Regions from separate parts of the Homo sapiens genome. Here region 2 is linked to region 1. A link means that fine-mapping ties the variant in region 1 to the expression of a gene that starts in the linked region. Tissue or cell type: whole blood. Region 1 holds a variant in brackets; the other region holds the start of a gene. All regions are shown on one strand. Distances are from middle to middle.

Region 1 (2,500 bases):
GTGCCAGAAGGAGATCGTGCTGATTACAGAGGTGAACGCCACGCTGGGCCGCGCCTACGTGGCACTGGAGAGCCTCCGTCACCAGGCAGGGCCCAAAGAGGAAGAATTCAACGCCAGCTTCAAGGATGGGCGGCTCCACGGCATCTGCTTGGACAAACTGGAGGTAGCGGAACAGCGGTTCCAGGCGGATAGGGAGAGGACAGTCCTGACGGGGATTGAGTACCTCCAGCAGAGGTTTGACGCAGACCGACCCCCACAGCTGAAGAACATGGAGGTGTTTGACACCATGGCCTGGCCAAGTGGGATTGAACTTGCCAGTTTTGGGAATGATGACATTCTCAACCTGGCCAGGTATTTCGAGTGCTCCCTCCCAACAGGATACAGTGAGGAAGCTCTGCTGGAGGAGTGGCTGGGCCTGAAAACCATTGCCCAGCACCTCCCGTTCTCCATGCTCTGCAAAAACGCCCTGGCCCAGCACTGCCGCTTCCCCCTGCTAAGCAAGCTCATGGCCGTGGTGGTCTGTGTGCCCATCTCCACCTCTTGCTGTGAGCGGGGGTTCAAGGCCATGAACCGAATCAGGACCGATGAGAGGACCAAGCTCTCCAACGAGGTGCTCAACATGCTCATGATGACAGCTGTGAACGGCGTGGCCGTCACGGAGTACGACCCCCAGCCCGCCATCCAGCACTGGTACCTGACCTCCTCAGGCCGGCGTTTCAGCCATGTCTACACCTGTGCCCAGGTGCCAGCCCGCTCCCCTGCAAGTAAGTACACGTGGCAGAGCTCCCCCAAGGCAGCCTCATGCTGAGCCAGAGGCCAATAAGACAGGACTGCAGGTGCCTGTGGAGCTTCTGTCATGCACCCACCCATTTGCTAGGCCAGTGGGTACTCGATGCGTGACATCCACCCTCCAGGAGCTTGCACCCCTGCCAGGGAGATGACGCACATGTGCTCTAGGCAGCAGGGCTTAGTGCAGAGAGCGTGCATTTCTAGAGCCTGTCTGCCCTGGTGACAGTGCTGTGCTGGCTCTGCCCCCAACTGGCTGTGTGGCCTTGGGCAAGTCTGTCCTTTGATGCCTTGGTTTCTCATCTGCCGAATGAGTTGTGTGTGGAAAACACTCAGGACAATGCCTGGCAGGTGGTGCAAATGGTACTAGTTAAAGGTCAAGACCACTGCTGGGAGTAAGGAGAGGGCTGACCAGCCCCAGGCAGCGCCATCACATTCTAAGTGGGGCTGTATAGACTCTGGACCGTGCAGGAATTTTCAAGAGGGAAGAGGTCCATGTGGCTGTGGAGGAGGTGAGATGCGGAGGAGATGGTGGGGCTTTCAGGCAGAAATCTCACGGGGCAGGGGAGAACAGAAACAGCCTCTCTGGACCGGAGGGCTGGGGTCAAGAACTTGCTTGAGGGGGAAGCTGTATTAGAAGGGAGGGCAAGTTACTGAAAGC[C/CACAG]ACAGACAGGAAATTTTTCTCTTCAAGTAGTCACTGAAAACCAAAGAAAATATGCCCATTGTTGGGGTTCTCCAGACCACTCGCGACCACTTGACAAGGATGGAGCAGTGCTCTCTCTCCTCGCGTCTCTAGCTGGCCTCCTTCCGGCTGTTGCTGCTCCCAGTGCTCTCTCTCCTCGCGTCTCTAGCTGGCCTCCTTCCGGCTGTTGCTGCTCCCAGTTTTCACCTCTGAGTCTGTGGTCACCAGAAATGGGACTGGATCTCATGGCTGACAGAGGCTCTGTAGGAAGCAAGGTGGCCCTGAAGCCACAGTAGGGCAGGTGGGGATAAGAAAAGAGACCCCTCACTGATAAGAGAAAGGGAAAGCCGAGAGAGGGCTGGGTGAGTTGCTCTGTGTCCAGCCCTGTGGGTGCTAAGGAGAAAAAAATGATGTCAGGTGTGCCCTGATGCGAGTTACTCTTTCCACAGGGACAACAGGACCAGCACAGATTGGTCCAAACACTGCCAAACTACGCACCGCTGCCTCCTTCCAGGCAGGGCTCTCAGCCTTGGCATTGTTGATGCTGGGGCTGGGTAATCTCTGTTGGGGGCCCTTCCTGTTCACTGTGGGAACTTGAGCAGCATCCATGGCCTCTACCTATTAGATAACCACTGGATACCAGTAGCACACACCCCATTTGTGACCACAAAAATCATCTCCAGACATTGGCAAATGGCCCCTGGGGGACAAAATCGCCCCCAGTTGAGATCCCCTATCTCAGGATAAAAGAATGAACAGAGTAGCAACAGATGAGGGCTGCAAAGAGCAGTCGTGGTCCTGACTTCAGTCTGTTCTGCCAAGCTTTCCTCACCAAACAGCCCCTGGGCGAAGCTGGATGTGGAAGGCGGTCACTGTCAGTCAGTCTAATTGTATTCTCCTTCCTCCCTCACAGGCGCCAGGCTCAGGAAGGAGGAGATGGGAGCCCTCTATGTGGAGGAGCCCAGGACCCAGAAGCCACCCATCCTGCCCTCCAGGGAAGCAGCGGAGGTTCTGAAGGACTGCATCATGGAGCCT
Region 2 (2,626 bases), 25 kb before region 1:
CATTGTCTTAATCTCTATGTGCTTCTGTAACAAAATCCCTGGAACTAGGTAATTTATAAATTATGGATACTTATTTCTTATGATTCTGGAGGCTGGGAAATCCAAGATCAAAGCACCAGCAGTGTCTGTGTCTGGTGAGAGCCTGGTCTCTGCTTCCAGGAGGGCACCTTTTTGCTCTGTCCTCACATGGCAGAAGGCAGAGGGGCAGAAGGGCAAAGGGCCTAGCTAGTTCCCCCAGCACGCATGTGGTCACTAACACCTTCATGAAGGCACATCCCTGCCCTGGCCCCCTAAAAGTCTTTTTTTTTTTTGAGACATGGTCTTGCTCTGTCACCCAGGCTGGAGTGCAGAAGCGCCATCCCGGCTTACTGCAGCCTCGACCACCCAGGCTCAAGTGATCCTTCCACCTCACAAAATTATTTTATTTTTATAGAGATGGGATCTCTCACTGTGTTGCACAGGCTGGTCTCAAACTACTGGGCTCAAGTGATCCTCCTGTCTCAGCCTCCCAAAGAGTTGGGATTAGAGGTGTGAGCCACCGCACTTGGACAAAACTTCTTATAAGGACACTAATCCCACCATAAGGGCCTGACCCTCACGACTTCATCTAAACCTCCCAAACGCCCCATCTCCTGGGAGGGGAACACCGGTCAGTCCATTGCACCTCCTTTACCTGGCAGACCCTACCTCTTGCTTTAATTCTGCTGAGGCATCACTTCCGCAGGAAATCCTTGACTAAGCACCTCATATCCCCCACCGCTTCACTCTAAGGTGACAACGCGGGCTTTAATTCATGTTTTGTGCTTACCTCTTTCATAGCCCTTGTCTCTGTTTTGTAATTATCTGTTTCTGGTCTGATTCCCTAATAGATCGTGAGTTCCTTGAAGGCAAGGCCTTTGTCTCATTCAACTGTGTTCTCCCAAACCCTAGAACACGGCCTGACCCATGGTAGGCAACCAATGATACTTTTTGAGTGAATAGAACAAAAAGTATTGCCCTCCTTAATAAAAGAAAACCTAGAACTTCAAGGCTGACATTGGCCTTCGCGTAGCCCAATCAGAGCGCTTTGCCCTTGCTGCAGAGGACTAAAGGACGCCACGCCGCCGTTGCCTAGTAACTGTCGCCGGAGGGAGGCGGGGAGGGTCGCAAGCGCGCCGCCGGCGTCCAATCAGGACCTGCGTTCCGGGAGCCAATAGCAGCTTCGAGAGCCGCTCACCTAGAGCGGACTACACTTCCCGTCACGCCCCGCCGCCTGGGGCTGGGCAGTGACCGTAAAGCTGTTCGCTCGGTGCGACGCAAGTCTCAGCTCAGCGCGCTTATCCTGGGTCCACCGGCGCTACCGCCCCCCGACGTGAGAGAGCGAAGTTCTTGGGCCGCGCTCCCTCCCTACCTGGGTGCCCTCCCCCTCCGGGAGCCTGGGTCCCCGGGGCGGTCGCGGCGGCTGCATCCTCAGGCCAGGCCGCGGGGGGAGGGGGCGGCACGGGCCTCCGAAAGCGGGGCCATGGAGCCCAGAGAGTCGGGGAAGGTAGGACTGGAAGGCCCGGGGGCCGCCCGCTCCCTCCCGAGGATCCCCGAGCCGGGCTCGGGCGAGGCGGGGCGGCTCGGGCGGAGGCCCCGCAGATGAGCCAGGCTTGCAGGGAAGGACTCGCCGGCCCGCCCTCTCTTCCCGCACTTCGGCGCCCGACCCCGGGAGGGTGGCGGAGAGGAGCGGACGCTTCCGTTCGGTGTCCGCGCATCCTCCCCGAGCTGCCGAGCGTCCGCTGGGTCGATGCTGGGTTGGGTGACCCCCGAGTGGAGCGATGCGAAGGTGCTTCCTGTTTTCCCCACCACCTTCGGCGTTTTGAAGAGGCCCTGCTAAGGCTTGGAGTCTGGATCGGACGCCAGTGGGAGCTGCAGGGTGGGACGCTTGAGGGCTTGACCCTGCCTAGATCCTCCTTACCAAGAAAGGGCTGAAAAGAGAGGGCATCTGGCATGCTTTTTGCCACTTCTGTTTCTAGGTTATGTACTTCATGGAATATCTGGGCATTGCTTAGAAACCTGTGTCATAAATTGGCTTTGGGCAAGAGGCTTTGAGTTGGAAGAAAAGGTGGAAAGAAAGTGCTTGGGGGCGGAGTTCAGGGATTTGACGGGATTGCCAGCGCTTCCAGGCCGTGTCATCCAAGACCAGTGTGGTTGTGGGCACATTAGCTTGGAGACAGTGGCAGCCTCTTGGGACTAACATCTTTCTGGATGTTGTTTGCTGCCAGTTCTTGAGTATTGTTTCTTATTTGGCACAGAGGAGAATTCTCTCAACAAACGTTTTCGACTGTTTATTGAGTCCCTTAAAAAACTGTCCATTTAATAAACATTTGTGATCTGTGATTTGCATTGAACGAGATGCTGGAAGTATGAGGATAAATAGGAAATGATCACCTTTCTCAAGGAGCTCTCCTGCAGTTTTCACTTCAATAACTTGGACACGCCTGAAAGGGTTGTCCCACACGAAAAGAGAGAAAAGGATAATGAGGTTCTTTTGATGCTGTAGTTTTTCCTGGGAAGACTAGGAAGGACTCTGAATTTCAAAAGAGGTGATTTCTCGCATGAGCATCTCTTCCATCCTCCCTCCCTCCACAAGCTACAGTGATGC

The links. PIP is the estimated chance that this variant, and not a neighbour inherited with it, causes the effect.
Region 2: it holds the start of ZNF862, and the variant in region 1 is fine-mapped to the expression of ZNF862 in whole blood (TOPMed, PIP above 0.99).

Annotation. Positions count from the first base shown.
Region 1 is chr7:149,861,731-149,864,230 of GRCh38, forward strand. ZNF862 (zinc finger protein 862) reads left to right here. Exons shown (of 8, transcript NM_001099220.3): 7 at 1-764; 8 at 2,379-2,500. Among named protein-coding and RNA genes, the nearest start is that of ATP6V0E2-AS1, 11 kb to the right of the region's middle. The variant C/CACAG (reference allele first, on the strand shown) is at 1,448.
Region 2 is chr7:149,837,111-149,839,736 of GRCh38, forward strand. ZNF862 (zinc finger protein 862) reads left to right here and starts at 1,265. Exons shown (of 8, transcript NM_001099220.3): 1 at 1,265-1,525. The coding sequence starts at 1,502. RefSeq lists a silencer at 1,341-1,800.